Regions from separate parts of the Homo sapiens genome. Here region 1 is linked to region 2. Evidence: fine-mapped expression QTL. Tissue or cell type: testis. Region 2 holds a variant in brackets; the other region holds the start of a gene. All regions are shown on one strand. Distances are from middle to middle. Region 1 holds the start of TBILA (TGF-beta induced lncRNA). Region 2 holds the start of C3orf52 (chromosome 3 open reading frame 52).

Evidence for each region.
Region 1: it holds the start of TBILA, and the variant in region 2 is fine-mapped to the expression of TBILA in testis (GTEx, PIP 0.94).

The regions. Positions count from the first base shown.
Region 1 is chr3:112,131,131-112,136,513 of GRCh38, forward strand. TBILA (TGF-beta induced lncRNA) reads left to right here and starts at 2,293. Exons shown (of 1, transcript NR_157393.1): 1 at 2,293-4,229. It overlaps GCSAM (germinal center associated signaling and motility), which reads right to left and starts at 2,118. Exons shown (of 6, transcript NM_152785.5): 1 at 1,962-2,118. The coding sequence starts at 1,990. It also overlaps a transcript of C3orf52 not described here. RefSeq lists enhancers at 1,724-1,783, 2,264-2,443.
Region 2 is chr3:112,081,947-112,087,329 of GRCh38, forward strand. C3orf52 (chromosome 3 open reading frame 52) reads left to right here and starts at 4,443. Exons shown (of 6, transcript NM_024616.3): 1 at 4,443-4,599. The coding sequence starts at 4,462. RefSeq lists an enhancer at 4,105-4,621 and silencers at 4,138-4,187, 4,238-4,287, 4,308-4,357. The variant A/G (reference allele first, on the strand shown) is at 2,987.

The sequences.
Region 1 (5,383 bases), 49 kb after region 2:
CATTTAATCCCAGAATAAATCCATAAGATAGATATTATCATTATATTTTTTATACTAATGAGGAAACTGAGGCCCAAAATGCTAGGCAACTGGTCTGAGGATCCACAGCCACTAAGGGGGAAAAGCTGGGTTTGCTGCTGGCAGGTCTCTTCCTCTGAGACTGAGCTCCTCTCATGAAGGGATGAGTGCCATTCTATTCTGTGCAAAATTTCCCTGACTTCTTAGCTTATTTGATCTGGAGAGACACGGTTGGGGGGGTATGCTGACTAGATGATAACTGGGTGTTGGGGTGACAATGAAAATTAGATACCAATATATACAAGACTTTTGAATACGTTAACGGAAACATTTTATTTAATTATTTTAATGAATTTATTTTTAAGACTGGGTCTTGCTATGTTGTTCAGGCTGCCCTCAAACTCCTGGGCTCAAGCAATCCTCCTGCCTCAGCCTCCTGAGTAGCTGGGACTACAGGTGCATGCCACTGCACTTGGTTCAAGGGAGACCTTTTAAATCATCATAGAAATAAAGATGTTGGGCAAACTGATCAACTATTTGGAAAAAAATTTACATCTGACACCATATATTGAATATATGTTGCCAAATGTAAAATAACAAAATCAAAACTTATGTGAGTTGATTTGTCTTATCTTAGGAAGAGCAAAGAATTTTAAGCATGAATGCAATGGCAGAAACCAAAAAGCTTTCTAGATTTAAAATCGAATTTTCTTTAAAATAAATAAAAAACCATAAGAAGTCCAAATAGCATAAGATGTGTGCACCTTGGAAAAAGGTTTTTTTTCTTACATAAAACAAAATTTTAAAGTAAAAAAATTTTTTTAAAGTTTTTTTGCACTTATTCAGTGCACGTGATATGCCAGAAACAATGCCAGGAACCAGGAATTCAAAGATAAATAAGAAACAATCACTACATTTGAGCATCTCATATCTAGTAATAAAAATAGTAATTTATATAATTGTTAGAACAATGCTAGAGTAGAAGATTGACAAGGGGCTGTGACAACCCAGGGTAGAGAAGTCTCAGACAACATGATTCTTAGGAAGGGACATGAGATATTCCACAGGACCACCAATCCTCTTTTCGGCAAGTGGTCAAAAGTGGGCTACCATTTTTTCCTGTGTTCCACTCTCCAGTAGCATGAACTGAGACCAGGGATTCCAAACATAACCCTGTGAAGACCCCCTCTGGCTCGCTTACTCTCTCTAGATCACCCCACTTTATACCCTAGAGATTACCTTGTCTGTGGTGGCACTATTTTGGTGGCACGGCTTTGATATTAAGGAAGATGATGGTCAGAAAAAGAAAGCAGAAAATATCTTCTAATTTTGAACCCTACTTTATGTCAGGCACTATGCTAGCACAATACACACTAGAACTCTCTAAGGTAGATATTGTATTATTATTTCTACTTAAAATAAAGAGGCTGAGGTCCAGAAAGTAAATCTGAGTTCTGTGCCTATTTAATCTAGATGACCTCTGCTTACCTGCTTGCAGGGAGTGCACATCAAAGGAAGACTCAAGGTGGCAGGAAGCTTGCTGTTTATTTCAAACTTAAAATAGTGGCTGAAAGAGGGTGGTGATTTTGACCTCCTTGTGGAGCATGAGGAGCTCAGGAGAGCATCTCCTTCCCGGGCTTTCAGAAAGTTGTTTCATTTCTTAGGTGGTAACCTATTATATAGACCTTCCTTGGTAAAGTCTTTCCACCTTTCAGCTATTCTCCATCAGCTGCTCACCATGATTCTTGGGAGAAGGCAAAACCTATGGGAAATTTAATGTGGTATCTGGCACAGAGTAGGCACTGAAGGCTTGGCAGTTTCCTTACCCAACTACTTTCTACCCCAACTTAGTGTGCTAACTGTATACTAGCTTTCTTTTTCTCTTCCTTGCTGTATTGTCCTGTCCCATCTCCTCTGCTCTCCCACAGGGAGTCTAGACTTACCTGTTTTCTCTCAGCAGAGAATTTCCCATCCTCTCAGTCCTCTCAGGGCTTCCCCTCCGTCCCTTTACCACTTCCTTCTTGCCTTGTGCTCTGACAGGGCAACTCCTGACTTAAAGAAAGGGCTGTGTGGCTCTGGCCACCCGTGCAGAGACAGCAGAAAGGAGAAGGGTGTCTCTGCAGAGGGAAGGAAGAGGCTGGGGGAGGAGTGTTAGAGGCACGCATGTGCAGAATGTCCTAACATGTCAGTGCCTGAACCAACCTGGCTGTTGGCCATAACCAGCAACTACCCGTCAATGAGAGCTTCGAACCTCTGGGGAATCCCAGGTCTGAAATTACAGATGGGCCATGGGAGTTTTTCCACTACAGATATTTACGTTTATAAATCACGTTGTCTTCTTAGAAAAGTCAGAAGGAGGTTAAAACAGTCAAGCCACAGACCTGTAGAAAATATAGTATCAACAACTCTCAAATCTGAAAACAAACACCCAGTAACAAAATGGGCAAAATATTTGAACAGACATTTCACCAAAGGAACTATACAGATGAACATTAAAAGATGCTAAACATTGTAGTTATTAGGGAAGTGTAAATCAAATCCACAATGGAACACTTTTACATACTTATTACAATGGCTATAAAACCCTGACAATATCAAGTATGGCAAGGTATGCAAAGCAACTGGAAGTCTCATGCATTGCTGATGAGAATGCAAAATGACAGCCTTTTTGGAAAGAAGTGATAAGGACAGAAGGCAGGGCTTTACTGGGTAGAAGAGGGTGGTTCACTGGCAAAGGTCCCACCCTCAAGCCTTGAAACCGAAGCCCTAAATGAGAACAGTTATCCCTGTTATCCTGCCCAAATGTTACTCTTTAGCCTGTCCAGCCCCCCTATCCCGTGCCCATATAAACCCCAGACCTCAGCTGGCAGACAGACAAGCGGCTGAACATCAAGAGGAGAAGAAGCAACTGAGTGTCAGAGATGTGGCTTAACTTCAGGTGGCATGACTTCAGGGAGGAGCCCGGCCAGAGACAGCAGACTTCAGGGAAAGGTCACTTTCTTCCTGCACCATCCCCTTTGCAGCTCCCCTTCCACTGAGAGCCACTTCCACCATTTAATAAAATCGTCCACATCCATCAACTTTCAAACCATTCATGCAACCTGATTCTTCCTGGATGCTGAACAAGAACCTGGGTACCAACAGGGCAGGGTGTAAAAGGCTGCCACCCTGACTCTCCATTGAGTGGGTTAACACTTAGCTGTCCACGGATGGCAACTGCTAAAAGAGCATGAATTGTAACACATCCCTAAATGCTGCTGTTGGGCTGGAGCCCAAAAGTGCTCATCGAAGCCCTGGCACCCGCTTGCCTGCGTGCTCCCGCTCCCACAGAGAGTTTGAGCATGGTGGTGGCCAAGTAAGTAGGCCACACCCCTGTCGCAAGTCCCGAGAAGGGGTCAAGGGAACTCTCCCATCTCAGAAGTATGGCAATTTCTTATAAAATTGAACATAGGGTTACTGTACAACCTGGCAATTTCACTCCTAGGCATTTAGCCAAGTGAAACTTATGTCCTCTAAGACTGTGTGTACAAATTTTTATATGTGCTTTACTCATAATAGCCGAAATACCCTGGAAATAGCCCAACTGATCTTCATTGAGTGAATTGCTAAATAAGCTCTGTGTTATATTACATCCACACAACAGAATCCTGACCATCATTGAAAAGGAGTGGACTATTAATACATGCAATAACTTGGATCAATCTCAAATGCATTACACTAAGTGAAAGAGACCAGACTTAAAGCCTACCTTCTGTGACATTAGAGATAAGGTGAAACCACAGGAACAGAAAACATATTAGTGTTGCCAGGAGCAAAAGGTGGGGGAGGTGTTGACTTTCAAAGCACAGGAGGAAATTTTTTGTTGTTGTTCTTTATCTTGATTGTGTTAGTGCCCACATGACTGTATGCATTTCTCATAATTCACAGAACTGTATACTAATAAGGGTGCACTTCACTGCACATAAATGAATCTCAACAGACAAAAGGTTAAAAAAGAAAGAAATCTCGGGACAGGAATCATGGATTTTTGTATTATCCTTGTATTTGATGGTTGTTTCCAGTTTGGTCACTCATCTGTTTGTTCATTCCTTTAACAAGTATGTGTCGAGTGCCTACTATGTGCTGGGCACTGTAGGTTCAATGGTAAGAAAAGCAGATACAGGACTGCTCTTGTGAAGTTCCTTGAAAGAAATAAAACAAAGTGCAAAATATTTTATTGCTTGTCCTTGAGTAATGTAAAGGTCATATCTAAAACAGGCAGGAGAAGGATGGGGAGTGGGCTTAGAAGAAACAATTTCAGAGAAACTAGGGTACTAGCTGTGCAACCCCAGATTCATCTCACATCATTCTTATCCTTATGGCTGCTCTCCAAACTTCCTTTTGGCTCTGTGAGGGATTTCCAGGAGCACCTTATTAAAAATGGAAGATTTTATTATAAAAGATAAGCCATTATTGATCATTCACTTTTCTAAAAAAACACAAATGTGAGAATAAAATAAAAACACACAAGACTCACTAGCCCCTGCAAGACAGAAAGCAGCCCTGGACAGAGAGCCTCCTTATTATATACCTAATGCCTGAACTCACACATTCTAGGGTTTCATGTTTTGTTACCTCTTGCAAAGGATAGGAAACTGGCTAGAAAATTCATGTAAAGGAAGGTCACAACTTTAAAGCTATCTGACGCTAATGACTTGTATAATCTAGTTTGCAGCTCTGAGAGACAATATCAAATAAGCATTGTCAAATACTACTCCCACCTAACCTTTGCTGTCATTGTTCTTTGAAATTATCTTTGGGATTGGTTATGTTCTCTCACTGTAGCTTTCGTTTATCTCAGAGCACACACCCTAATGTCCATGTGCAGTCTCCATGCTCAAGTATTCCAGAATACAATTTTCTGGAGTCTAACTTCAGTTGACACCTGACTCCAAATTGCAAATCTACCTCCAACCAAAAAGAAATGAGAAATTAGTTTTTAAGGGCAATTAGCAAATATATTACAAAAATAATTTCAGATAAACGCTATGTGACAAATGGTGCTGTCAAGTCCTCTTATGTGAATACTAGTCATTGTTTGTCTTGAGAAAATGTGTGCAGTGGAGGATATCTTCTTGGCATATAAAAGGGGAAGATTTCTTTCTGTTTTAGTAATCTCTTTAGGGGATTGCCTGTGGTGTGCATTACATTCTGGTTGAATATTCAGAAATAAAAGTGTTTTCTTTCTCTTCTATTTTTGTGGTGAGGTTTTCTGAAATAGCAGGAGATTTTGCTTTTAATTCTATTTCCCCAATAGTAGCTCCATTAATTTTTTTCATGAATCCCTCATGTAATTGACTCTAGGAAAGATGTTAGGGTGGTAAAT
Region 2 (5,383 bases):
TCAGTTATCGACAGAATAAGTACCTATATTGTTGCTTTACAAACCAATTTTATCTAAACATATCATAGTGGACCATCTTCAGCCATGGCACATGGTAATGTTGTGTACAGAGAAACCAATCAACCAACCAACAAAACTGACAGCAACCATTACTAAATGGCAGAATAAAGCATCATGGTAATTGAATCGAAAGCATGTATATGAGATTCAAAGAAATTGTTGTAATGCTGGTCAGCAAAAAAAAGGCAAAGAAATTTTTGAATGATTGTTGCAAAAGTGAAATTTTTCAGAAATATTATCATCTGGCTTTTGGTTCTTTTTAAAACCCCAGTGGATGAGACTTTCTTTTACTTTCAGACTCTTATAATACCTTACATAGTTGTAAGCCTATAGCACACTCTCAATGTATCTTAGTTCTTGATTTATTTTATCTTGATTTAGAAGGTTTCATACTTGATCTCAGAATATTCTTTTCATTAACAGAAGCCAGAATTGATAGTACCACCAAATGAGTGAAAACAACAGAAAAAAGAGTGATATTATTTGTTTTCCTGTTATAAAGTCAAAGAAGTAATAAAAATACTAACATCAGGTAGTGTCTATTAATAGAATAATGCACAGAACCTTAGAAAATCTTAATGTAACAGCAAAAGGAGAGAGAGCAAAAGGTGTCATCTCCCAGGCCAGATAAATTTTTCAGTTCATAGAATATACTTTGATTTGTTAAAAGACTGTTCCCTCAGATTAAGGATAAAGCATCTTAATAATACCTCTATGAATGGGCCCCAAAGGTTTCAGTAAACTGGCTATACGATAGTGCAATTCAGAGGGCCAAGTGTACCACTAATTCAAAAGGGAGGACTTTGCTACTGAATCCACTGGATAGAAGAGCGAATTAGGCTGATAGTTCTTATAATCTACATTATTTTGTCTGGATGGCTGTGACCTATATACAAGGTGAGTTGTACTTTTTACTTTATGGTCATTTCTAGGGCATAGAATTGCTCTTCACAAAATACATGAAAACCTTTGCATAAGTCTGTGATCTCGGTTAGGGGATGGAGGAGGGCTGGCATGATCCATCAGATTCATCAGAGGGAGTTTTTGAAAGCACATGTATGTACTACCTCTATAGGCCCTCACTGGTATTAAAGTGAGTACACGATATGCTGTAGCAGTGCTGGGGCAGGGAAAAGGTTGAAAAACAAACATAACTTGCTTGGATATTGCATGTTAAGATGCATTTAGAACCTGAATGATGTGGGAATATCCACTTCATTCTTGCAAAGGTGTGAAGTAAGGCAAGTCCCAAGAATGGTTTTGTTAGCAGAGCAAAATGGCCTTCATAAATTAAGACAGAAGCATTTCACGTGCCATATTATCAGGGAGAACTTGTAGGGACTCATGCCTTCTTTCACAGTGCCTTGAAAATAGCACAGTGAAGCACCACAAGCAACCATTTCTCAATTGTTTTCTACTTGATTAGCTTGAGTGGCTGACCCAGTTGCTGACGTTCGGAGTAGTATTGCTTGCCATCTGACAACACACAGGAACAAACTGTTGCGTATTCCAGAGTCACAGACCTATTTGAAGGGAATGAGATGCCTTTGGTGTATTGGTGATATCACTCTGATGATGTTACTTTGTTTTTCAGTTTATATGATAACCATTTAGAAAATTATTTGCTTCTAAAAAGGATTTAAAAAGAAGAGCAAGTACTATTAAAAAAAAGCAACATCAAAAATCTTATATTGGTCAGCAAATATAAGTATGTTTTAATTTTTTAATGTTACTTAAATTAGACACTTCAAACAAACTAAAGCAATTGAGTCAATAATAATTTTAAATTATATTAAAGAAATCTATTTTTGAAATAATAGTATATTTAAAAAGCCACCCTTATGTAAATGAATTCTGAAGGAATTACAAAAACAAATCTAGGTAGAGTTTGGTTCCTCATTCACAAATTCTTGACTTTCATCAGACTCGTTTAATCTAAACTTGGTTGTACCTCTAGGGAGAAACACCTCTTCCTAACTTATTCTGAATCCTTAGTGTGGAGTGAAACTGGCAGGATGAAGAAAGTCTTCAGGTAGGGTTGGGACTCTCATCTGCATTCTAGGTCAGCTGTCTGGAGATTAAGAAATTTGCAGTTAACAGGAACAGGAACAGGTTGCAAATAAGAATTTAGTTCAGGTAATATGGGAGGTGTCAGCAAGTGTCAGTGATCAGGAAAATAGGACAGCACAGGAAGAAAAACCAATATCAAAAGAAAACATATTGAATCAAGGGTTAGTGCTGGGTGCTAAGGGTCGGGGGAGAGTGGGTATTAGCCACAAAGACACAGTCAGGGAATGTAATGGAGCATTTACTGAGATCCTTTCATTTTTCAGGCACAGGAATAAATTCTTTACCTTAATCTTCCTGACTCTGCTAGGTAGGAATCATTTTATAAGAAAACAAGCAGACATTGAACAGCTTGCCCAAGAACACACAGATAGTGAGAGTCTAAATTTGATCCTAGTTCTGTCTGCCTTCAGAACTTATATTCCTTCCACTGTAACATGAGAACAAGGGTTAGGCATATGGAATTATAGAAATGCATTTAAATCTAATTACAGAGTATATAAACCTTGCTTAACAGTACTCAAAAGGCATTAGAAGATGTGGTTTAGGGTGTGCTTGAGACAGGAACAGTTGCTTTTTGATTCTCTGGGGGAGTGAGGGAGGCTTTAGGTATCTGTGCATGGAGAAATCAGGCATGGAGATAGCTACTATCCATCTGAAGTGAGAAAAAAATCTCACATTTAGGATGAACTTCTGCAATCAAATAAGGGAACTATGAGAAAAGTTTTCTGGACCCTGGGTAAGGATGGGGGTGGGGAGAATCAGAAGTTTGAGAGGTGTCAGTGCTTCCAGTCAGGTCTGCATGTTTTCGTGACTACAGATCCTATCAAGACCTCCCTGCAAATTCCCACACCCTTCA[A/G]TGGCTCTAGTTCTTTATCAGTCTCCAGTCCCTTTTAGGCCTAGGAGTGTTAACAGCTTCTCGCTATTGCTAGTCCCTGGGTACGTCACCATGCCTTGTTGATTCCCTTAACCCTTGCTCCTTGGTTAAAAAACCTGTTCAAAAATCCCAGCTGAGAATGCAGCCTGATTCTTGCAAGATCCACCTGTTGGAGCAGAAGTCAGTGCAGGTCAGCAGATGAGTCACTGCAGACTCCCCTTAGCAGGCAGATGGATCCAAAGTTCAGGGGATCTGGTAGCAGGCATCAGACTGCTGGAGACAGGATATCTAGGCTGTGTCTCAACATCAGGTACTGAAGATGCCAGACTTTTGGACTCAAGTCAACATATTTGGAGTGGAGCTGATTTATATGCTTCTTGTTAATGGTCTGGTCTTAATGTGTGTGTGTGTGTGTGTGTGTGTGTGTGTGTTGCGTGGAGGGTGAGAAGTAAGGAGCAAGACTATTCGGAACAGAAGCTTGAGAGTTGAGGCCCTTGGCCCAACCCATGCTGTGCTTAACAAACATAATTCCATGCTAACTAAACCGGAAGTTCTGAACTACAGATAGGGTGTCAAGGAGATTGTGTGTGCGCGTGCATTGTGTGTGTGTGTGTGTGTGTGTGTGTGTAAGGCCCCTCCTCTCAAAGATAAATAATAATGGTCATTTATGAGTGCTTGCTGTGTCAATCACTGTTCTGAGTGCTTTGCTTACAACAACCCTTGTAATCCTGGTAACAACTACATTTAGGAGGGTACAAATATTACACCAACTTTCCAGATGAGGACGTTGGCACAGAGAGATGAAGACCGAGGTCTCACAGTGAGGAACCCTCTGGGTGGAGAATAACCCAGGTACACTGGTTTTAGAGTCCGCTGTCCCCAGCACCACACAATACTGTCTCTGTGCCTGACTCTGGACTTGCGAGGAAGTGTGTTGGTGTATATTATTCACCTTCATGCACTCAGAACCTAGCACCATGCTGGCACGAGGCATGGTTATTTGTTGATTGAATGAATGCACTTTTGCTAGGCCGCGAGGACTGTGGCAAACCCCAACAACCAACAGTTCGTAGGGTTAGATCGCAAACTTTTCTCCGTTGGACGGTGCTGCCGGGCCCACCCTTTCCTTACCACAGCCCGGCACCCAGGCAGCCCCTAAACGGAGATGGTCTGCATCTGCAGGCGCGGGGAAAGGCATAGCAGGCAGCGCCCTGAACAAATCAGAAAAACAGCCTTCGGCTCTGGAGCCCACTCCGGCACGGCCTCAGGTGCTCTACCCCGCGGGATCCAGGGAGTGGCCGCCACTCACAGTTGCCCCTCCTGTCCGCTCCGGTCCGCTCCCGCCGCCCGAGGTCCGCGACGCCCCGCCCAGTGGGTGGAGTGTGAGGCGGGGAGGTCGCTCGACTCGCCGGCGCTGTGGCCTCCCGCGGAGCCGCTCAGACTTTCCCTGCCGGCACATGGACCTGGCCCAACCCTCACAGCCAGTAGACGAGCTGGAGCTCTCGGTGCTCGAGCGGCAGCCAGAAGAGAACACGCCTCTCAATGGTGCCGACAAGGTCTTCCCTTCTTTGGACGAGGAGGTCCCCCCGGCCGAGGTAAGGTCCCCTTGGCGCTGGCCCTAACTTGCCGGCGGCGGGACAGTAGTAGGACCCGGGCCTGGCACCCGCGAGTTTCGGGTTTCCAGTCAGGCGGGGCGTCGACGGCGCCGAGCGAGGGTGGGGCGCGCTCGAGTGCTCTGAATGGAGCCGAGTCACCGCGACACCTTTCGGCCCGAGCAGTCCCCTCCCCAGCCCCTGGGGTCCTCCAACCCCTCTGACCCCCGAGGCGCTTTAGGAATCCTAGTGGTGAGGTGTGGCCGCTGCTGTCTTCAGAGAGGTATTCCGGAGATGGAAGTAGTTTTTTAAAGTTATGTAACTTTTAATTCAGTTTTTCTTTTTTCCAGTAGGGAGAATGAGAATGACAAATTGAGTATCCTCCTTCTCTCAGAATCTCTTCTGTCCTCCTCTTACCTTCACTGCCTTGCCACTTCTCTCCCTCCCCTCCACCCACCTCGCCGCAGCCCCCAGCCTTCTTCCATGCCTACCATCCGCCAAGCACTTTCTGCCTTCTCCCAGCCTGGCCATTGGATTCTGCCGGAAGAGAGATAGGGGAGAGCACAGAGGAGAGAAAGCGGTCAGAAGGGGAGAAGGGGTAGGGCTGGCGTAGAGATGGGGCGGGCGGGTTAGGGGGTCGGCGCGGGGGAGGTGAACTTGCCCTGCTCAATTGAAAGAAAATAATTTCAAAGTTCTTGTCTCGAAGGTTGAGACTTCGCCCACCTTGCTTTTACCTCCTCTCAATCCCTAAGGAAGTCCCTGGCTATTTTTAGGCCAAGCTCTTTTC